Regions from separate parts of the Homo sapiens genome. Here region 1 is linked to region 2. The links come from fine-mapping of genetic effects on plasma protein levels. A gene starts in region 2. The other region holds a variant in brackets. All regions are shown on one strand. Distances are from middle to middle. Region 1 overlaps ENPP6 (ectonucleotide pyrophosphatase/phosphodiesterase 6). Region 2 holds the start of ENPP6 (ectonucleotide pyrophosphatase/phosphodiesterase 6).

The links. PIP is the chance, under the fine-mapping model, that this variant and not a neighbour inherited with it causes the effect. Protein levels are from antibody-based Olink assays in UK Biobank. Linkage for the fine-mapping came from a reference panel and not from the study's own genotypes, which makes the PIPs less certain.
Region 1: its variant is fine-mapped to the plasma level of the ENPP6 protein (UK Biobank, PIP above 0.99).

What each region holds. Positions count from the first base shown.
Region 1 is chr4:184,196,111-184,208,182 of GRCh38, reverse strand. All of the region lies in intron 1 of ENPP6 (ectonucleotide pyrophosphatase/phosphodiesterase 6), which reads left to right. Among named protein-coding and RNA genes, the nearest start is that of ENPP6, 16 kb to the left of the region's middle. The variant G/A (reference allele first, on the strand shown) is at 4,089.
Region 2 is chr4:184,211,690-184,223,761 of GRCh38, reverse strand. ENPP6 (ectonucleotide pyrophosphatase/phosphodiesterase 6) reads left to right here and starts at 5,889. Exons shown (of 8, transcript NM_153343.4): 1 at 5,889-6,183. The coding sequence starts at 5,943.

The DNA of each region.
Region 1 (12,072 bases), 16 kb after region 2:
CAGGGGAGGCAGAACACTCGCGAATGGGTGCCCACTAATATTCTAAAGTGTGTAGCAAGGTGTTGTGAGCCCAAATGTGTCCTCATCCTCCTGTCCCCCAGTTCAAGTTGGGTTTCCAGTACCTCAGAATGTAACCACATTTGGAGATAAGGTCTTTAAAGGTGACCAAGTTAAAACAAGGCCATTAGAGCGGGCTATTCCAATATGACAGTATAGGAAGGCGAAGAGACACAGGCATGCGCACGTGCAGAGAAAAGGCCATCTGAGGACACAGCAAGGCGGCCCTCGCAGGCGGTGGAGAGGGGCCCAGGAGACACCAATGCTGCTAACACCTTGCTCATGAACTGTGAACAAATAAGTTGCTGTTGTTGGAGCCACTCCATCTGTGGTACTTTATAATGGCAGCCCAAGCGAATGAATACACAGAGAATAGGGAGTAGGGCCCCAGCGTGCTGCAGAGGACCAGGGAGAGGAGGCGTTCCTTCCAGTTGGAGTAGTGTGAAAAAGCATTTTAAAGAGGAGAGATCTGAGCTGGAAGAAACAGCCACCGGCGTGGTGTGTGTCTCTACATCTTACTTTAGGCATAAGCTCTCTCTCTGAAGAGCGGTGTGTGGATCAACTAGTGAAAACACAACCACAGTTTAAATGCCCTTGGAATGCTTTCTGTTTTAGTGTATCTTACCGTGGATCTTTTCGTAAAGTTATTCTCCCTTTGGGGTAAATTCACATTTGACTGAAGTGGAGTTTAACATAAAGTCAAGGAAAGAAAGCAGTGATTTGTTCAATCCAGGTCATGGGTAAGAGGGAAATGCTGCATCTGTTTTGAGGCAGCGTAACTTAGCATCATTTTGCTAAGGCTAATGGTAACATTTGTTTGCAATTTTCAAACACTTCCGGTTAAGCAGTTGAGGAAAGTGGCCCAGAAACATTCTGAGTAGCGGGGAAGCCAGTCTAGAATTTTATCTTTACTGCCAGTAAACTACCAAGAGATGAACAGATGCTGAAATAAGTTTGTTCCACAGTATATTATTATTATTTCAACATTTAGACACTAGTAAATAAAGTGCAGGGAAATTCAATGTTTTGTTTCAGGCACCAAAGAACGTCGTGGCAGAGCTGAGATGGGGGAGCAGGCATCAGAGACCCCGTTCTCACACAGCAACTGGCCAGCGCCTAGGCGAGTAGGCATCAGAGGTCCCGTTCTCACACAGTAACTGGCCAGGGCCTAAGCCTGCATCTTAGAGTGGCCAGAAGGTTGTGCGAGTGACCTGAGACCCAAGGATAGAGATCTCCCCAAGACAGTCCGGGAAGCAGCGAGAGACCGAATCATCGTGCTCCTCTGTGGAAATCAAGGCAACAACAGGGATGTTAACTACTCAGCATTACTATTTGTGCCACGGCATTTTGTCTCGCACTCCTAGAAATCACCTGTGACACAAATTCTTACTAGATATCATGTTCTGGGGTAAAACAGCAGAGTAAGGTATACTTCCTACCACCCCACCTTTTAAGAAAACATCTGATTTAAATTAAAACTGGACCAAAGGCAATCAATGCAGAAAGTACTTGAACAATCGTGTTTCGAGAGAGCCCACATCCTCAGCCTTCTGCAGAATTCAAGCTTCCTGGCCGGGCGCGGTGGCTCACGCCTGTAATCCCAGCACTTTGGGAGGCCGAGACGGGCGGATCACGAGGTCAGGAGATCGAGACCATCCTGGCTAACACGGTGAAACCCCGTCTCTACTAAAAATACAAAAATTAGCCGGGCCTGGTGGCGCCCGCCTGTAGTCCCAGCTACTCGGGAGGCTGAGGCAGGAGAATGGCGGGAACCCGGGAGGCGGAGCTTGCAGTGAGCCGAGATCGCGCCACTGCACTCCAGCCTGGGCGACAGAGCGAGACTCCGTCTCAAAAAAAAAAAAAAAAAAAAAAAATTCAAGCTTCCTTTGAGGGGCTGTTCACAGACTCTGCATACGCACAGCTCCAGGTAGGGTGGAGACAGCCTCCCTGGTCCCCTCCGCCCTCCTTCCCCCAGGATTAGCATTTACATGGGGACATTGCCCCAGCTTGTGAGCCTCCTTCAATGTAGGTACCTCCTGAAATAAATGATCTCTGTTCGGCATGCCCTCTTCCTGTCTTCCTACTCTCTCTTGCACCAAATCCAGCGAAGCTTCTGTTTGGAACAGTGTCCTCCCGGGCGTCCTGGTCATTCCCAGCCTTAGTTCCCTGGCTGGGAGCTGCATCTGCCTGACGGCTCACAGGTCCCAGGACCCTGTCCTCTCTCAGTTTCCTTTTACTTTACTCACTCCTCCTTCATCCTTTCCCTTGGTTCCTCCTGATCTCCCTGACCTTCCTCTGTCTCACAGTGAAATCAGCTGACCTTTCAAGGTCGATCCTCAGCCTCTCCTCCCCCAACCTCCATTGCTGACCCCTGGCTGAAGCCACCACCCTGACTGCCTGGAGCCTCCTCTACTCCAGCTCCCTCTCGCTGCCTGCCCCACAACTAGAGCAGCCCTGTTTTGAAAGCAGTGCCTGCCCTACAACCAGAGCAGCCCTGGGAAAGCAGTCCTGATGACACCACTCCTCTGTTCAAACCCTCCAGCGGGTTCTGTTGTACCCCAAGTGGAATCTAACGCTCTTGCAGACCTGGCCCTATAGGTCACCCAGCCCCTTCGGGGCCTCGCTCCCACCACCCTTCTCTTCGCTTGCTTGTGTCCCGCTGGGCGTGCTTGAGCACGCTGCTCCTCCTGGCTGCTTCCCTTCTGCTTGTTCCCCAGAAAGGCCCAAGCTGGGCATCGCTGCATTCTTCAGATCTGCCCCACAAGGTCACCGTGGCGGATGCGTCTTCCCCAGCCACCCCACCAGCGCTCTCTCTCCCTCTTACTTTCTTTATTTTCCATCACGGCACCAGATTATTTATTTCTGTCTTCTCCAAATAAAACTTATTATAGTGGGCTGGGCACAGAGGCTGACACCTATAATCCCAGCACTTTGGGAGGCCGAGGCAGGTGGATCATTTGAGGTCAGGAGTTCGAGACCAGCCTGTCTAACACGGTGAAACCCTGTCTCTACTAAAAATACAAAAAAATTTAGCTGGTTGTAGTGGTGGGTGCCATAATCCCAGCTACTTGGGAGGCTGAGGCAGGAGAATCGCTTGAACCCAGGAGGAGGAGGTTGCAGTGAGCCAAGATGGTGCCACTGCACTCCAGCCTGGGCAACATGAGCGAAACTTCATCTCAAAAAAAAAATTACTATAGCGAAAAAGCATTATAATGATGATTAAGACATTCAGAGTTTCAGGGAAATGAATGATCACTTTGATGTTCGACACTTCTAAACTAATAAGGAGGAGAAAAAACTACAATCATGCTTTGCTCATATGAAAGCAATTTGCATTTAGTGAACTGATTACCCTTTACGTCTAGTAATCTTACATATCTCAAAATGTGTCTTTCAGTTTTGTTTTAAATTTTGATTATAAGGTTGGAGTCAGAAAGAGGCCTGGAAGGAGAGTCACCTCCAAGGAGAGCTGTGTCAAAGTAGGAGATGAAAGAGACTGGGGATGGTGGGAGAAAGTTTAACCAGGAACCAGTGGTCAGCACAGCCCAAGGGAGAGCCTCCTTGTAGTGAAGATCGCTGAAGTCGAGAAAGTGGAGCCAACAGCCACGCATGGAACCAGGCACATGATTCAGAACCAGCGTGGAACACTGTGAGGACGGTTCAGGCCTAGGTGCGAGTGGTCTGGCTGTCGGACCTAGGGACGCATGTGGCAGCTTAAAGGGACTTGCACGGCCACTCTTGTGTTTTCAGCCTCTGTCCCAGGCTGCTTAGGTGGCCAGGCTATGTATGCCAGCATCGCAAGGAGCTACTTAGATGTTTAAAAATATCAGGCCACGTTATGGGCTAATTTGTACACCCCCAAAACCCATGTGTTTATGCCCTGCCCCCTAATATCTCCGAATGTGACTGTATTTGAAGATAGGATCTTTAAAGAAGTAATTAAGGTAAAATGAGGTCACTAGGGTGGGCACTCATCCAGTATCGCTGGTATCTTTATAAGGAGAGGAGATTAGGACCCAGACGGGCACAGA[G/A]GGAAGACCACATATAGACACAGGGGGAAGGCGGCTGCCTGCAGACCAAGGAGAGAGGCCTCAGAAGAAATCAACCCTGATGACATCTTGATCTCAAACTCCCAGCCTCCAGAACTGTAAGAAACTAGATTTCTTTTGTTTAAGCCACCCAGCCTGTGTTACTTTGTCCTGACAGCCATTGGAAAGCAATATAAACGGGATCGTGACACTAGGCTGCTAATGGAAAAATGCAGGGTTTTTTTACACAGCCCACTTCCATGACCAAACCTACTCACTGAGAGTTTCTGGTGACTTCTGCCCTGAAATTGAGGCAGTCATGGTGTGTTAGCTTCCTAGAGCTGCTATAGCAAATTTGGATTCCCAAAGTCTGAAATCCAGGTGCGGGCAGGGCCGTGTTCTCTCTGAAGTCTCAAGGGGAGAACATGTTCTGCGCTTTCCCCTGCCTTCTGGTGTCACCAGCAATCCTCGGTATTCCTTGGCCGGTAGATACATCACTCCAACCTCTGCTTCCATTGTCACGGGGCATTCTCTGTGTTCCTCTGTGCTTCTCCTTCTTGTAAGGACACCAGCCATATTGAATTAGGGCCCACCTTAATGACATCATCTTAACTTGACTATGTCTGCAAAGGGCTTATTTCTAATAAGGTCACATTCACAGGTCCTGAGGCTGGGAACTTCAGTATATCTTCTTGGGGGCCACAAGTCAACCCATTACGCATGGTCCAGTGGAGAAAGTTACGGATTTAGCTGTCAAAGATCAAACTTAATCTATTCTGTCACTTTTTGACTTTCAGAATTTGAACAGCTTCTTTTGAGTGTTAATATTTTGTTTTGTTTTGTTTTAGAGACAGAGTCTCGTCCTATCATCCAGGCTGGAGTGCAGTGGCACGATCTCAGCTCACTGCAACCTCCGCTTCCCTGGTTCAAGCGATTCTCCTGCCTCAGCCTCCTGAGTAGCTGGGATTACAGGCACCTGCCCCCACACTTGGCTATTTTTTTTTTTTTGTATTTTTAGTAGAGATGGGGTTTCACCATGTTGGCCAAGCTGGTCTCAAACTCCTGACCTCAGGTGATCCACCTGCTTTGGCCTCCCAAAGTGCTGGGATTACAGGCATGAGCCATTGTGTCCAGTGAGTGTTAATATTTTATCAGTAGAATGTAGAAAGTAAATGTTACCCAATAGGCTTGCTGTGAGAACAGAATGAGCAAATATATGTGTAAACTCACCATTAGTAAGAGTGTACATATTACCCCCTTTATCAGTAAGGTGAGGCTGAGTTATGTTGTTGCAACAAGCAATTCCACACCACGTCTGTCTTAGAATAGCTCAGGTTTATTCCTCACTCATGTGCGTGGCCTTGAGGAATGACCTCCCCTCCGATTTCCTCTTCATTCTGGGACCCAGGCTGAAAAAAGCAACTTCTAAATGAGACATGCTGCTCTCATGGCAGAGGTAAAAGATAAAATAGAACATTGTGATCATGGATAGTTTGGGCAAAGGAGGAGAAGTGAGCGTGGTCAGGTCAGAAGGAGGGGTGCTGAGCCCATTTGCCATCTGGGTGTGGGTCGGGGGTTGCAGAGAATAGAGTGTGTCAAAAACGTGCAATTGATGAAAGTCTATGAAAGCCATACCAAAGGATAGTCCAACAGGCTCCTCCTCCCCTCCTGTTCCACTCCAGACTTCACCGCATCTATCCTTTATGATGGGCTGTAAGTGAGGGGGAGAGTTGAATTTGAAGGGCACCCATGAGGCAGAACTTGCTGATTGGCTGATGAGTGAATACGAAAGAAGAGCCTGAACAGATGCCACAGCTGCAAGATCTTCTGAAGTCTGAGTAAAGGGGCTCTCATTAGCACAGATGGGAAAGTTTGAAGGGCTATTAATCTCAGTGAGATTTATTTGGAAAAGTAATTTTCATCAAATTATATTTCAATTTGAGTAAGATATTCACTTGGCATTAGCCCTTTAGGGGATCAGAGACCATGTCTTAAAGGAGAGTTCAAGAAGCATGCAGAATACCACTGAGGCAAAGGAGAGAAATTGATCCTGTGGGTCCTAGTGGACCCCAGTAAATGGACTTCCTATCTCACTGCTTGCTACCCAGCTGGTAGAGAATATTTCTCACGGATGCACAGTTAAAATCTGTCTTCCCACCTGAATTAACTTTTGTCAACATTTTGTCATATACTTCCCAGAGACACCTAACAACATTTTTTCCACTTAAACTATACTCTCTGTAATGAGCCTCGATTAAGCTGCCTAAAGAAGCAGGCATGGTAGGCGAGGTGTCCAGCAATTGAAGCTAGAAGTGGGTAAGAGCACTACTAACCAGCCATGCCCTGAGGAAAAAAAAAAATGTGTTCTAAGAATTTACTAAAATAATGTCTCCCAGCACATCATTATTTAAGCTCCTATCAACAGACCTCTCTGCACTGAAGTGTCACTTTTCAAAAAGTATGTTTCTTTTGGCTTCCATGGTGACCAGAGGGTGTTCTGATTATATGGCATTCAGCTGCTGGAAACTTGCTCCATGAAGAAGGGAGTGGTTAGAGTAGGGGGCAAAGCTGTAAAATGTGGTGAAAGCTTTTGATTGTAATAACAGCAAAGGCGTTTCCAGAAGGCTTGTCCACGTGGAGCCACTGCGGTCTACACACCATGGCGATCTCACAACACCCCCCCGCCCCGCCTCCCTCACCCCAATGTTGATTGATAGGATCATGTGCCTCCTGCCAAGGCTTTGGGGATGGCTTGACCCCTGCAGCTCCAGTTCCTGCTCAGCATGAGTGCTGTGCCAAAAGTGGGTTAAAGGGCATTTCAGATTAATTTGGAGGGAGCCTGACTCAGCAGGTTAACATTCATCTCAGAGACACCTTCAGCAACACCTGCTCGAGTTTCAGAGCCCCTCTCCATGAATAGGTCCATTGTGTCCACACGATAACCAGGCAGAGACCTGGGGCAGAGCTGGGGGTCCTGGGGGCGCGCGTGCTGTGTTTGACTCTTGTTGGATACTTTGCTTGGTCTGAACCGACTCCCATCATCAGCCCTTTCGACAGCAAGGAGAGAAGATCCAGAAGGCAGATCATGGGAGGATGCGTGGGCCACCTTATTTAGACAAAGGGCTGTCGGGGCTGAGAGCAATGGAACTTTGGTCCAGGATACTGAAGATCTTTACTTCTTGATGAAGGAACTACCCAGGGCACCTTCAAGAGCACGTGCATGGGAGAATGTGTGTACATGTCTGCAGCAGAACAACCCAGGCTGAGTGCTAGGGACCAGGAGTGGGCTCCAGGTGTGCCAGGAGGCCAGGTCCCCCGGGAGTCACCTTTGGTGGTGAGCAGTCTCATCCACTCAACCTGGGTTGCCCAGCCGATTATCTGCACAGGGCAGGCTGCGAAGCAGTGTGGGCCACAGGGCAGGGAAAGGGGGCAGAGGAGCCGGCTTCTCCTGACTGCCACAGTCCGCAGGGACTTGGATACATTACATCATCTTCCTGGGCCTGCACTCTTGCTGTTTAGCGTGAGAAGACCAGACAAATGGAGCCCTGAGGTTGGTTGTGCATTTAGTGAGTGCGCAATTGATGTTAATTAGGTTCTGGCCAACTAGGTGTGCTAACCCCAACCGAAGCCAAAAAGGTTCACAGTGACTCGATAGCCAATTACATATGCTTGAATCCACCTTTTGTTGAGAGGCCTCCACGCACCACAGATCATGTAATTAACCAACACACAAGCAGTAATAACAGTGTGGTAAGGAAACGCGGCGATGGCTCGGGAGAGCAGCACACCAACAGATGTGCCGAGTGGGTCCGGACGTCCTTGGGACGCTGGTCAATGGGGTCCTCACCGCTTCTGGCATCAGATGCCAAAATTGGGAGAAGGCTTCAGAGCTCTCATGGGCAGAGGCTCTAAGGGTGTCTTGAACGAGGCCAGTTCTTGGCTGCTTTTATTGTCCTCCCAGATGAGTTTGCTCTCATCATCTAAGCCACCTTTCACTTTCTATTGGTCTGTTTCAGGGTTGGGTGGCACTGGGCAGCAGCAGGTGTCATCACTTCAGTCCATTGCATATGTGTATATCGCTTTGAGGAGGGAGACAGCTTCACAGTGGGCTTACTGATATTTGGCATGAGTGACTCCATTTTGAGACATTAGGAGCACAAATTATGATATCAGGGATGTGTGCTGGGAGTGTTCTAGGTGCTGGAAATACCATAGAGAGGTTCTTAGGGCCCACTGAGTGGGAGCAGACGGAAAGTGGGGGGACTGGGGTGGGCTCCCAGCGAGACGCTGTGTCCCTTGCCCTGTTTTATGATCACAGTAGCTCCAATTCGACCTGTTTTGTACATATGAAGAAAGTGCTCTATAGTTAATCCCACTGGACACTGATGGCCCCTAACAAGGACTGGCCTGAGGGAAGGGTGGACGGCAGCAGACAGAAGTCCTGTGTCTGTGGATGTCACGGTGGAGACACCCACAGAATTTGCCTAAGTGGCACCCAAGCCTTGGGCTCTCCTTCCAGGTTCTGAACACAAATCAATCACAGTAGCCCATCAGCTCTGCCGCATGTCTAGCTTTCCCTGAAAGATCCTCTGTGTGTCTAAGGATTTGGCTTTCACAGGTGGACTTGAGAAAACATTATTCTTTAAAGGTTGAAAGCAGCCACCGTACAGAAACGTAAATGTTTGGGAGAAAACCTCAAATATTGTGTTCTTCAGCCACTCACTAGCAGACCATGGGCCTAGCCTGGAACCTGCCCCCCAGCCCACTTCAACCCCTGCCTGGCAGCCCAGACTCCTGACAACAGCCCCCCAGCCCGTGAGATATCTCATCACAGAGCCCACCAAAGAGGGAAGATGGGTAACTTTGAGGCTGGGGCACGTCAAGGCATCAGGGAGCCTGAGAGAAGACGCCTCGGCTCCAGCAGCCCCTGGAAAATGCTGCCATGTCACTTAGCCTGAGACGTTCCAAGCAGCGTGATCTGTGTGTTGAGTAGCCAGTTATGTTAAAACCATTCATGCGTGTTCCCTTGGTCTCTGGTCACATATGCTTCGTGGCATGGAGGCGGCCTCTCTCCTTCTCTGTTCAGCCAGACTCTTCCCAGAGCCCCTGCAAGGAGACACAGCCATTCAGGTCATCAGGGCCCCAGCATAGGGTACTTGCCAGTTGGAGGGAAAACATACCTTTGAAGATGCCTAAGAAACCAGGAATCATGGTACCTATCTGGATGGCAACTGGACAGATGAGAGACAAGATGGGACACAGACATCTTGTTGCCTATGTTTTTGAACAATGTGGATTACTTACCTATTTGCAATATTAAGTGAAAAATTTGTATCAGATCTAATGAGACTTGCTCAACTCTAGTAGAACAAGCAGACATTTTGTTCAATATTGATTAAATCCCCATTTGTGATTTAGGGAAATACATTCACATTCAAAGAGTTTTGAAATACATGTTCCTCAATCTAGTGGACCTAAAGCAATGTTTTGTGCTTTGGTTTGGTTTTCTCAGTCTGCACTGCAGACTTGCAAACGGTGACCAGCCAGGGCTCAGGACACCCAAGCTTGAGGTTTTTGTCACTATCCTTCTCTCAGTGCCACCACCTCTGGGAGCTGCCACTGCCCCTCTGAGAAGCAGGACTAAAGGCCATCTATGAGACCTCCCCTAGTGTACAGCCTCGGAAGGGCTCCCATTTCGCAGGTGGGTCCCTGCAGGCAAGACCTGTCCTTGCAGTAATCCCCACTACTGTTGGTCTACACTCCCTCAGGGGCAGTGGAGTGTGGACCGTCTCCACGTTGGGGACCAGTGCTTACTCAGAGAAGACATTGATTTGTGTTTGTTGGACTGCACTGGCTCAGAGCCAGGGCCTGGGCTTTTCCCAGCTCTGTGGCAGAAGCCTTGGGTTCCCCATCTTTCTACAAGGCTCTGGAGTTTTGCTGCCAAGCCCCGTCTGTTGGCTGAGGTTGCACTCTTTTCTAACAAACTGCCCAGTGCATCATATGCCTGTTTTGATCTCACTGGCTTCTGGATTCTTCTGGCCAAGCTCCATGGGCCTCTAAGTCCTCTCCCCTCATCTTCATACTGGATGCCTCTCTCGCCCTTAAGGCCGACAGCAACACCACTGCTGTGTTCATCCTGTTGTCCTGGACTTCCCAGCACCCAGAGCTATCCCTGGTGTTCACTGGTCTCTGTGGGAGGATCTAATTCCAGGTTCCAGTTACTCCCAGTCTGGCCCATTCCCCTGCAGCTTAGCTGGCTGGCCTTGTCCCAAACCATGACATCCCTCCTTGCACATTTCTATGAGTGACTTTCATAGTCTATTTTAGCATGCATTTTTCTGTGTAAGATATAACACTAAAACTATATGAATGAGCTTGGGAATATGTAACAAAATCCACTACATCCCAATCCAAATTTCCCCCAAAGGCATTCAGAATTACAAAATGCCAAAAGCAGAGGATGACTTAGAGATGCTAGTGCATTTGTGTTATTGTGCAGGACACAGAGGCCAAAGATGCAGATCCGGAACCAGATAAAGGGAGAAAAACCACACCAAGTGCAGGTTTCCAAGCCGGGGCCAGCATCTGGCATCCCTTAGATGATCAGGGACGGAAGCCCAGGCATTCTCTTCCAGCCCCTCTCGCCATGTACCCAAGTTGCCCTTTTTGCCTGAGCTCTCGACCTTATTCTGAGTACTCTACTCTTTCAATGCTGAACTTCCCTGGGTTGCTTTTGCTTCTTTCTTCAGCCTCATTAACATCTCCCGGGAGGTACAATCTGAGATGGAGATGAGATTCAAAGCAGTGAGAGAGAGAGAGTGTGTGGTGCATGTGTAGATTTCATCAACAATTTGGCCCAGGGGGAGGTGGAGCCACGTAGAAGATTGTGGCTGGTTTCTGGACTCAGCTTGGCCATCCTCTCTATTTTCTAGTGCCGTGAATAATAACTGAAGACTGGCTGCTTACACCCTTTACATAATCCCATCAAGCTCTGATGGAACAGATAAGAAAAGCACATTCCAAGGAATTCACTCTCAGCCTGTGTCAACATGTATTATAACGTCCAGCTAAAAGCTAAAAGAATCTAATAAAAACAAAGAGACTTTACCCAATCCCCAACCACCTGTTTGCCTGTTCTTTTGAACTGACTGGCTAGCTGTGGGGGGGTCTTGAAAGTTGACCTCATGAGATTCCCTCAGGGGACATCAGACTGATCCCTAACCTTCAAACCAGAGGACCATCAGGGTTCTTGCAGCCAGTTGTGAGACGCCTGTTGGGATGGAATTTAAACCATGATCTCTTCACCTCTCCCTTTTCACCTCCTGGTTTTTGTTGGAGGCCTCTCTGGGAACTCTCAGTCCTTCTCTTTGTTGATACCATCTATTCTTTCTGTAAGAGCTTTACTCCCATCCTCTACCACACCCACAGCCCAAGCCCTGGCTTTCCTCCACCTGTCTTTCTCTTTCAAGCCAAAATAAGATGCCCTCCTTCCAAAAGGCTTTGACATGTAGATTGTAACATTTCAGAGATGGATGGTGCCTTGAGATCTTGTTATTTTCATCCACTTGCTAACTCCTTTTCCACTTACTGTCTGAACCACAGATTTTGGTAATTACACCAACATATAGTATTGACATACATAGTCATACATTGCATTCATACATGAATAATATCCATTCAAGAATATACTGAATTTCTACTTTGTAAGAGTTCTTAAGATGCCAGGACATGGCCTCTGTCCTGAACAAGCTTGAATAAAGTTGAAGCAATTAAATATGTGTCAAAATGAATATAATCGTCGTACAGGATAGAACAGGCACAGGGGAAGCACAGCTCATTTCTGAGAGTGTATGTGAAGAGGGAAGGTTCGCTGAGGCGACAGTTATTTGAGTAAAGCCTGAAGGATCCGGACAGCTTGAAACCTGGAGGAAGGGCCTCGTGGGTGAACAGCATGGCACAAGCCAAGGGGCAGAGATGGGGTGACAAG
Region 2 (12,072 bases):
TTAATCTGTCTCATGCTAATTTAATTATTAGCCCAGCCAAAGAATCAAAAAGTGTGAATGAAAGCCATTTTTCACTCCCCTACAACACCTTTGTCGAATATCAATTGAGTGTAAATGTGTTGGCTTATTTCTGGCCTCTCTATTCTGTTCCTTGGGTCTATGTGTCTGTTTTTATACCAGTACCATGCTGTTTTGATAGCTATAGCTTTGTAGTATGTTACAAAGTCAGATAGTATGATGCCTCCAGCTTCATTCTTTTTATTCAAGATTTCTTTAGTTATTCACAATTCTTTCTGGGTCCATACACATTTTAGGATTTTTTTTTTCTATTTCTGGGAAAAAATATCATTTGAGTTTTGATAGAGATTGCATTGACTCTGTAGATCGCTTTGGGTAATATGAACATCTTAACAATATAAATTATTCCAATCCATGAACATGGAATATCTTTCCATTTATTTGTGTATTATTCAATTTCTCTCATCAGTATATTGTCATTTCGGCATACAGATCTTCTACCTCTGTGGTTAGATTTATTTTCAAGTTTTTGTTTGTTTGTTTGTTTGTTTGTTTGTTTTTTGAGACAGAGATTTGCTTTTGTCACCCAGGCTAGAATGCAGTGGCACGATGCAACCTCCACCTCCCAGGTTCAAGTGATTCTCCTGCCTCAGCCTCCTGAGTAGCTGGAATTACAGGTGCTTGCCACCACACCTGGCTAATTTTTGTATTTTTAGTAGAGACGGGTTTTGCCATGTTGGCCAGGCTGGTCTCAAACTCCTGACCTCAAGTGATCTGCCCGCCTTGGCCTCCCAAAGTGCTGAGGTTACAGGTGTGAGCCACCACACCCAGCCTATTTTCAAGTATTTTGTTCCCTTTGATGCTATTGTAAATGAGACTGTTTTCTTATTTTTATTTTTGGACTGTTTATTGTTACTTTATAGAAACACAACTGATTTTTGGATGATTTTATATCTTGCAACTTATATGCTCTGTGTGTGTGTGTGTGTGTGTGTGTGTGTGTGTGTGTGATCTTTAGGAGTTTGTACATGTAAGATCATGTCATTGTCAAACAGAGATGGTTTTATTTTTTTATTTATAATTCTCTTGCCTAATTGTCTGGCTAGGACTTCCAGTATGTTGAATAGAAGTGTTTAGATCAAGCATCCATATCTTATTACTGCTCTTAGAGGAAAAGCTTTCAGCTTTCCACCACTGGGCGTGAAGTCAGCTGTGGGCTTTTCAAATATAGCCTTTATTATGTTGAGGTATTTTCCTCTTTCGCTACTGACCTTTTAGTCGAAAATCTTTGTATTTTTTTGTTGTTGTTTAGTAGTTACTCTGAGGATTACAATATGCATCCTTATTACAGTCTAGTTAGAATAAATATTCAATCACTTTACATTTTGCTCTTGACATCTGACTTTTCCCATTTCATAAATTTCAAGGAACTTCACAACAGCTTAATTCCATTCAAACATTCTACCCCTTTCATTTAGGCTGTTGTCTTTATATCCTTTAATTCTTCGTAAGTCATCACTCGCAGCATAGTGTTATTCTTTTTACTTTAAGCAGTTATTTTTAAGGACATTTATGAAAGAAAAACATAGTCTTTTATATGTACTCACATATTGATCATTTATGAATTTTTTTCCCTTCCTGTGTATATTAATTTTCATCTTGTGTTATTTCCTCTCAAAGGACATTCTTTAGTATTTTTTTGTGGTACAAGCCTGTTGGTAACTAATTCTCTCATCTTTTGTTTATCTAAAAATGTCCTTATGTCGTCTTAAATTTTAAATAATATTTTTCCAGATACAAGGAGGGTTGACATGGACCAACAAAAGGCCAGCAGGGCTGCAAAAGCTGGGATGAATTAATTAATAGGACCAACAAGGGTGGATGTTGGCCGACATGGGCTGACTTGGGACCTCACTCTCAAATTGCATTGATTCTACAGCTAGAAAGTAGAAGCTAGAGCTTTGTCACTTTTCAGAGGTGAAAACTGAAGCCCAGAAAGGCAATTTCTTCAGAATCACACAATTGCATCATACCAGGATCTTGACTCTGGAATCACGTTTTTTTTGTGTTTTTTGTTTGTTTATTTTGTTTTGTTTTGTTTTGTTTTTCTGAGACTCTTTCCCTTCCATCTCACCTGTCTCTCCATAAAGGGGAGGCACCAGGGTGCTGACTAATCTGGACAGCACATTTCCTGAGAGCTCATGCATGTCCCTAGAGAGACTTGCAGCAGCTTTAGGACAAAGGTTCTTTCAACTTCTGGAGTAAATTTTTCATATTTTGCATTATCTAAGTGAAACCCCTGTGGACAATGACTTTACAGTATTGCCAACCCTTGAAAACAAGTTGCAATAAGCACTTATAAGCATTAGGTACTGATAACCACTCCCAAGTGAAGACATCCAGATCATAGACACATAGGTTTTGGATCACAAGACTTTGGGCACTTAATGTTAACCACCTGTATGACATATGGCTTTTAACTATTGCTTTTTAGCTTTCATTTCCAATCTTTTCTAGGTTAGACGGTTCAAGACCTGGAGACTGGCTTTGAGCAACCCTAGGATTACCTTGGCTTGAATTCCATCCAATACGTCTCTTTCTTCATATATTGGTATGTATATTAGAGATTCATATTGGCAATCATTTATTGATCCAAAGCTTTAGAGACATTGTCTAAACATGGTCATAACACAATATGATCATAAACATTATCATAAAACAATGATGACCCCACCCCAGATACATCACAACAATCTTTGTGGAGCCTTGGGAGCCTCTGGGGACCTGTGAACACGCTAATCTGAAGCAAGTTACTTCTGAGTTGACACCCACAACAGCTCAATGAGGCACTCAGGGAGCCATATTTTGAGTGTACCCTTGTTAGTAGTGGAGAAAAGTGGAAGTCCCTCTTATATTCATCTTTAACATTTGGAGTGCTTAACCTCTCCCAAAGTGAGCTCAGAAGCCATCCCAAAGTGAGCTCAGAGGCCATCCCAAAGTAAATCACTTGGACTTGCACTGTGACTCCAGCTTCGCAGTCCAGACAATCCCTGAGCCTCTCAGGAACTCACAGAGCACAGCTATCTGGGCCTCCTACCTCCATGGGCCCTCACCAGGGGAAGAAGTTCTCCTTCTAGCACATGTGATGTTCAGTGTCTAGGAGGCCCATCAACCCATCAGGCTGCATCTGCCTTTTCCCCTCCCCTCCCCTCCCTTCTCCTTCCCTTCCCTTCCCTCTCCTCCCTTTCCCTTCCCTTCTCTTCTCTTCTTCCCTTCCCTCCCTTTCCCTTCTTCCCATCCCTCCCTTTCCCTTCTTCCCATCCCTCCCTTTCCCTTCTTCCCATCTCTTCTCTTCCCTTCTTCCCTTTTCTTCCCTTCTTCCCTTTTTCCTTTCCCTTCCCTTCCCTCCCCTCCCTTCCATTCCCCTCACCTTCCCTTTCCTTCTCTTCTTCCCTTCTTCCCTTCCTTTCCCTTCCCTTCCCTTCCCTCCCCTCCCCTCCCTTCCCCGCCCCTTTCCTTCCCTTCTCTTCTTCGCTTTTCTTCCCTTCTTCTCTTCCCTTCCCTTCTTCCCTTCTATTCTTTTTTTTCCTTCCCTTCCCCTTCCCCTTTCCCTTTCCTTTCCCTTCTTTCCCTCCCTTCCCTTCCCCTCCCCTTCCCTTCCCTTCCCTTCCCTTCTTCGCTTTTCTTCCCTTCTTCTCTTCCTTTCCCTTCTTCCCTTCTATTCTTTTTTCCTCCTTCCCTTCCCCTTCCCCTTACCCTTTCCCTTCCCTTCCTTTCCCTCCCTTCCCTTCCCCTCCCCTTCCCTTCCCTTCCCTTCTTCGCTTTTCTTCCCTTTTTCTCTTCCTTTCCCTTCTTCCCTTCTATTCTTTTTTTCCTCCTTCCCTTCCCCTTTCCCTTTCCCTTCCCTTCCTTTCCCTCCCTTCCCTTTCCTCCCCTTCCTTCCCCTCCCCTTTCCTTCCCTTCCTCCCTTTTCTTCCTTTCTTCTCTTCCCTTCTGTTCTCTTTCCTTCTTCCCTTTTCTTCCCTTCCCTTTCTTTCTCTTTCTCCCTTCCTTCGTTTACTTTTCTTTCTTTCCTTTTTCTTTCTTTCTTCCTTCCTTTCCTCTTTCTTCTCTCTTTTCTTTTTCTCTGTTTATAGCAACAATACCACACAGCTCAAAGAAAAAAGAATAACATTGTTTTCAAAGTAACAACCTTTTAGGATAAACTCCCCTTTTCCTTATTTTTTAATAAGAAAAAAATTTAAATTTAATTATAAAAAGCATTACCTCTTATTGGAAAAAAGAATTCTGATCCTTGGCCAAGTCCCCTGAGAGGGGAGTGGTAATTTGGCCAATGTGTTTCTCTTTTGCAGCATAATTTAAAAAGTGACATGGTGATCCTGTGTTTGGGCTTGACTCAAATACAACAGAAAAAGAGAAGGAGAAAAGACACAAGCAGAGGGCAGAGGTGGAAGAGGGATTTTGGGGTTGACTGAGAGTGGCTGGTGTGGCTGGTGTCTATCTTCCTTCCCTGGAAAGTTTGCCCAGAGCCTGCAAGTTTCCTCAGGAGACAAGCAATGTTATAATGCGAATAACATCTAACATTTGTTCAACACTTGCTATGGACCATGCATGTTTTATGTCTTTTTTTTTTTGAGGCAGGGCCTCACTCTGTTGCCCAGCCTGGAGTGCAGTGATACAATCACAGCTTACTGCAGATATGACCACCTGTGCTCACACAATCCTCCCACCTCAGCCTCCTGTGTAGCTGGGACCAGGCACGTGCCGCCAGGCCCAGCTAATTTTTTAATTTTTTATAGAGATGGGGTCTTGCTGTGTTGCCCAGGCTGGTCTCAAGCTCCTGGCCTCAAGCAATCCTTCCACCTTGGCCTCCCAAAGTGGGCCACTGCACTCAGCCATGTTTTATAAGCCTTCACATGAATTGTGTTGTTTAATTTTATGTAGCATGACGGAGCCACTCTAGGGAACCCCTGGACTCTGGGTACTTTGTGCTAACTCTGTCTGCTCCCCAGCTCACATCTGCCTCCCTGTCACTAACCTCCTCCTATTTTCCACTCCGCCTAGTCTTCTCGGTCCCAAAGCCTGCATGGTAATTTCTAGCTCTGCTTTTCCATCTCAAGCTCTCAATCTCCAGCTCTCTATTTCATTTCCATCCTCCTGGGGCAATGCTGCTTCAGACCATTCTGCCAGTAATGATTTCCCATTGTCCAACTCTGGAAGCTTCTCATTGGCTCTAGGGCTCTTCTACGAACCACCTCCTCCTATGGGCACCAGCAGCTAAATCACATTTGAAAAATAAAATAATAACAAATAATAACACTGCATATAAAAACATAAGTGGCCAAGACATAGACAAATAACTTTTTTAAGTGCTGTGTCTACAGAGACACAGCTGGGAAGTTTACAAATGGGCCCACCGAAACGTATTGTTTCCTGTTTATGCACTGAGTCCAGAGGTTTGCGTTACTAAATTCTAAGTGAAAAAGAGTTTAAATGAGGCCATGATGTGGGATAACAGCAAATTAAAATCTTGCCCTTTTCCTTGGTTCCTCCCTTTGGTTAGCTCAACTGCAAAGTTAGTGTTGACTTTGTCATCTTCTAAAATTCCACCTCTGTGGGTGCTTGTATTTCTGGAACGTTCACCAAAAATAATAAGTTTGAACTCTCTCCCCTGGTGTTAATTCTGGGTTGTTTGGAACCCAGTTTATCTGAAGGAGTCGGTCTCTGGACTTTCTAGTAAAGGGTGAGCATAGATGTGTGGAAAAGGGGGTGCTGTTCCTTTAAATTCTGCAAGTGAACTTGACTCAGGAAGGCCAGCGGCTCAAGGTCCAGCCCCTGGAAGAGAGAATAGCTACAGATTCTCCATCCTCAGTCTTTGCAAGGCGACAGCTGTGCCAGCCGGGCTCTGGCAGGCTCCTGGCAGCATGGCAGTGAAGCTTGGGACCCTCCTGCTGGCCCTTGCCCTGGGCCTGGCCCAGCCAGCCTCTGCCCGCCGGAAGCTGCTGGTGTTTCTGCTGGATGGTTTTCGCTCAGACTACATCAGTGATGAGGCGCTGGAGTCATTGCCTGGTTTCAAAGAGATTGTGAGCAGGGGAGTAAAAGTGGATTACTTGACTCCAGACTTCCCTAGTCTCTCGTATCCCAATTATTATACCCTAATGACTGGTGAGTACCATGTCCTCTTCTGGGCAGGGAGGGGAGGGCTGGCATCCAGCAGGGAACAGTGAGCTCCTGGCATTGGAGTCTTATTTAAATGCTCTGGATTCTCTAGTCCTTTGGGACATCAAAGGTAGATAAAAAAAATCTGTGTTCTTGGCTGAGAAGACTTTTGTTTTCGTGGCGGTATTGTTTCCCAAAAGTTATCCCAAGGACCTGTTTTGGATTCTCAGTGCGGAGGACAGAGAACTATAGCAGTACATGATATTTGACGATATTAAAAGTGGTCGTTTATTTTAGAAAGAGAAATTCTAATGAGGCTCATATTTTCTAAGTTCAAGTCTGCAAAAGCAACAGGTGTCCGTGCATGTGTCCCAAACTCCTTCTGTCCCTTTTCTCTGTGGTCATGTCATCCTGGCACCCTGTGGGCTTGTTTCTCAGTGTGTTGGACTGTGAAAGTACCTGTGGGGTCCTCAGAGGGGAGTGGTGCTCCCGGATTACTTGGGGAAGGGGGGATGTTTAGGTCATATCCTTCCCTGTGACTTAGCAATGCCACCTTCCCCTTCTTTTGCCTTTTTGGCCAGGTAAAATGATACGGAGAAGAAAAAGCTTGTGTCGTTCAGGTTCCCCATTTGTGATTTGCAGCATCTACAAAAGACCAACCAGCAAAAACTCCACAAAACAAACAAAAACCTCGGCTAACCCAGACTGCCTGGGCTTGGGATAGCTGATTTTCCTAAGGACGGCCTTCATCTGAAATTGCCAGGACTCCAAACGCGACTGCATGAACCTGAGCCTCTATCCGTGCGATAATAGAATGTGCAGCCCTCTCTCTGCTCACAGAGTTGGATTCCCAGTTTCTGGTTTGTTTTTCAGCTATAACCTTTGTAAAGGCAGCGAGAGGCTCTCAGAAAGAATTTAGCAAACTATCCAGGGAGGCTGCTAAGAATGCACTGTTATTGCTGGTTATGCGGGACTCAGCTATGCACTCTGAGCACAGAGAGAGCTCTGCTAATTATGTTAACAGAAAGAAAATGAGATCTCTGATATCTCATGGACCTCCACAGAACACTAAAGCCAAAAGAGTCTAAAACAGACATTTATATCTCTGACTTTGTGCATAGATACTATATACACATGTACGGAAAAATGCCATAAACTGATGCCCCAAACTGAAGGGGAGAGATACTTCGGAGAAATAAAAATGAGGGCATGAGAGAGAGAAAAAAATCAGACTGCACACAAGCAAGGAAGTTATGTATTTGTTTTTTATTTCCCCCAGCAGACAAAAAAACAGTCTCTAAGATAAACAGAATTAACAAAATTCTCTGGCCCTCCCCTGGCATGTGTCTCCCCTTGCAGGGAAGCAGTTTGCAGGCTGCCGGCTCTCACATAGACGTGATTGTGTGGACAGCCGACTCCAGCTCTGTGCAGCGGCTTCACACACACAGCCCACCCCCACTCCAGCTGTCTTTCAGAGCCTTGCCAGGGGACCCAATTCATAAACTGCCACGCCACGTGCAGCTTCTGCAATCTTAGTGGAAAATGAACAAAATCCATCTTAGAAAGGACTCAAGTAAGTAAAAGGACCATTACAGACTCCACAGAGACACTAAGCCAATGACATGGCCTTTTGTTTGTCAGATCCACACTCCTGATATTGGCACAAGGAATAATTTGCACACAGCCTCCGTCATGCTGAGACACACCTTCTTTTCCGGCTGTGGGTGTTTTCCCTTGTGCTGTCCTGAGAGAAGGGCCCCTTCCTTTATGGGCAGCACAGGTCCCGTGAGTGTCTGACAAAGATCTCACCCTTGCTTTCAAACTGAGGCTGGCCCGAGGAAGCCACAGGTCTCCATATGTGTTAAGTCTCTGTATTTTCAGATGGCCAAATGTATTCACTGATGTGGAAGTCTGCTTGGTCTATATGTTTCATAGAAGCTACCCTGCACAAGGGAGGGATCTAGCAAGGCTCATGTTTCTGTACAAATGTCCTTGGGTATGATTTGTCTTGTACCTACTGGGCAGACTTGCAGACTTGAAGCAGAATTCGCAGGCTGGGAAATGCCAGGCCATGAACCTGGTATCACCTCCACTGTCTTGGAACTGACTCAGAGTTAAATTTAGACTATTTTCCCCAATACCCATACTTATTTTTCCACCTGATGCTGAAAACCTCCTCTTTTACTCATATAAAGAAGGATATAGCCATTGGGAATTGTAGCTAAACATATGGTTTGAGCATTTGAGCATTTTATGAACCAACAAAATTGCTATGCTAGATCTTTTTGGAAGCAAAAGATATGCTGTTTTAGGGTTCCTCAGCATTCACAAGAGAGGCTAAGCTCTCACTTCATTACCCGAATTATTGCTCAGAATACAGAAAGCCCTTGGTGTTCTTCCCTTTGCATAACGAGGAGTGATGAGTTGTTGGAAAGAATGCTGGCCCTTGAGCTGGGAGAACTTGCTTGGAGACTTCAGGCAAAATAAAATGAGATGAACTGCCGGGGCTGCATCAGGCCGGGATTTCAGGTGCTGCTGGATGCAGACATAGAACTAGGCAATGCATGGGGAATTTTATTTTATTTTATTTCACTTTAAATTCTGGGACACATGTGCAGAACGTGCAGTTTTGTTACAGAGGCATACATGTGCCATGGTGGTTTGCTGCACCTGTCAACTCGTCATCTAGATTTTAAGCCCTGCATGCGTTAGGTATTTGTCCTAATGCTCTCCCTCCCTGTGCCCCCGATCCTCCAACAGGGCCCAGTGTGTGATGTCCCCCTCCCTGTGTCCATGTGTTCTCATTGTTCAACTCCCACTTATGAGTGAGAACATGTGGTGTTTGATTTTCTGTCCCTGTGTTAGTTTGCTGAAAATGATGGCTTCTAGCTTCATCCATGTCTCTGCAAAGGACATGAACACATTCTTTTTTATGGCTGCATAGTATTCCATGGTGTATATGTGCCACATTTTCTTTATCCAGTCTATCATTGATGGGCATTTGGGTTGGTTCAAAGTCTTTGCTATTTGCACAGGTAATTTTAAAGTTAGGGCTGGACCCTCCTAGGAGGCCTTCGTGTAGAAAGTATGCAAATAGCGGAAACTCCCTTGAGACAGAGAATTTCACAGTGGATGGGGATGGGGAATCAACAGGCCTATTTGTGAGCAACCTTGAAACCATCTAGCCCAGTTGCTGCCATGAAGCCACCATGGCTGATTATTTATTTGCCTCAAAACATGTTTATATCAGGACAAAAGCAACCAAAATGCCAATCATGATCATGAAGATGAATCAAACAATTGAATGCCAGGAACATTGAATCTTTTTTCTTTTTTTTTTTATTATTATACTTTAAGTTTTAGGGTACATGTGCACATTGTGCAGGTTAGTTACATATGTATACATGTGCCATGCTGGTGCGCTGCACCCACTAACTCGTCATCTAGCATTAGGTATATCTCCCAATGCTATCCCTCCCGCCTCCCCCCACCCCACAACAGTCCCCAGAGTGTGATGTTCCCCTTCCTGTGTCCATGTGTTCTCATTGTTCAATTCCCACCTATGAGTGAGAATATGCGGTGTTTGGTTTTTTGTTCTTGCGATAGTTTACTGAGAATGATGATTTCCAATTTCATCCATGTCCCTACAAAGGACATGAACTCATCATTTTTTATGGCTGCATAGTATTCCATGGTGTATATGTGCCACATTTTCTTAATCCAGTCTATCATTGTTGGACATTTGGGTTGGTTCCAAGTCTTTGCTATTGTGAATAATGCCGCAATAAACATACGTGTGCATGTGTTTTTATAGCAGCATGATTTATAGTCCTTTGGATATATACCCAGTAATGGGATGGCTGGGTCAAATGGTATTTCCAGTTCTAGATCCCTGAGGAATTGCCACACTGACTTCCACAATGGTTGAACTAGTTTACAGTCCCACCAACAGTGTAAAAGTGTTCCTATTTCTCCACATCCTCTCCAGCACCTGTTGTTTCCTGAGTTTTTAATGATTGCCATTCTAACTGGTGTGAGATGGTATCTCATTGTGGTTTTGATTTGCATTTCTCTGATGGCCAGTGATGATGAGCATTTTTTCATGTGTTTTTTGGCCGCATAAATGTCTTCTTTTGAGAAGTGTCTGTTCATGTCCTTCGCCCACTTTTTGATGGGGTTGTTTGTTTTTTTCTTGTAAATTTGTTTGAGTTCATCGTAGATTCTGGATATTAGCCCTTTGTCAGATGAGTAGGTTGCGAAAATTTTCTCCCATTTTGTAGGTTGCCTGTTCACTCTGATGGTAGTTTCTTTTGCTGTGCAGAAGCTCTTCAGTTTAATTAGATCCCATTTGTCAATTTTGGCTTTGGTTGCCATTGCTTTTGGTGTTTTAGACATGAAGTCCTTGCCCATGCCTATGTCCTGAATGGCAATGCCTAGGTTTTCTTCTAGGGTTTTTATGGTTTTAGGTCTAACGTTTAAGTCTTTAATCCATCTTGAATTGATTTTTGTATAAGGTGTAAGGAAGGGATCCAGTTTCAGCTTTCTCCATATGGCTAGCCAGTTTTCCCAGCACCATTTATTAAATAGGGAATCCTTTCCCCATTGCTTGTTTTTCTCAGGTTTGTCAAAGATCAGATAGTTGTAGATATGCGGCGTTATTTCTGAGGGCTCTGTTTTGTTCCATTGATCGATATCTCTGTTTTGGTACCAGTACCATGCTGTTTTGGTTACTGTAGCCTTGTAGTATAGTTTGAAGTCAGGTAGTGTGATGCCTCCAGCTTTGTTCTTTTGGCTTAGGATTGACTTGGCGATACGGGCTCTTTTTTGATTCCATATGAACTTTAAAGTAGTTTTTTCCAATTCTGTGAAGAAAGGCATTGGTAGCTTGATGGGGATGGCATTGAATCTGTAAATTACCTTGGGCAGTATGGCCATTTTCATGATATTGATTCTTCTACCCATGAGCATGGAATGTTCTTCCATTTGTTTGTATCCTCTTTTATTTCGTTGACCAGTGGTTTGTAGTTCTCCTTGAAGAGGTCCTTCACATCCCTTGTAAGTGGGATTCCTAGGTATTTTATTCTCTTTGAAGCAATTGTGAATGGGAGTTCACTCATGATTTGGCTCTCTGTTTGTCTGTTGTTGGTGTATAAGAATGCTTGTGATTTTTGTACATTGATTTTGTATCCTGAGACTTTGCTGAAGTTGCTTATCAGCTTAAGGAGATTTTGGGCTGAGACAATGGGGTTTTCTAGATATACAATCATGTCATCTGCAAACAGGGACAATTTGACTTCCTCTTTTCCTAATTGAATACCCTTTATTTCCTTCTCCTGCCTAATTGCCCTGGCCAGAACTTCCAACACTGGGTTGAATAGGAGTGGTGAGAGAGGGCATCCCTGTCTTGTGCCAGTTTTCAAAGGGAATGCTTCCAGTTTTTGCCCATTCAGTATGATATTGGCTGTGGGTTTGTCATTGATAGCTCTTATTATTTTGAAATAAGTCCCATCAATACCTAATTTATTGAGAGTTTTTAGCATGAAGGGTTGTTGAATTTTGTCAAAGGCTTTTTCTGCATCTATTGAGATAATCATGTGGTTTTTGTCTTTGGCTCTGTTTATATGCTGGATTACATTTATTGATTTGCGTATATTGAACCAGCCTTGCATCCCAGGGATGAAGCCCACTTGATCATGGTGGATAAGCTTTTTGATGTGCTGCTGGATTCGTTTTGCCAGTATTTTATTGAGGATTTTTGCATCAATGTTCATGAAGGATATTGGTCTAAAATTCTCTTTTTTTGTTGTGTCTCTGCCTGGCTTTGGTATCAGAATGATGCTGGCCTCATAAAATGAGTTAGGGAGGATTCCCTCTTTTTCTATTGATTGGAATAGT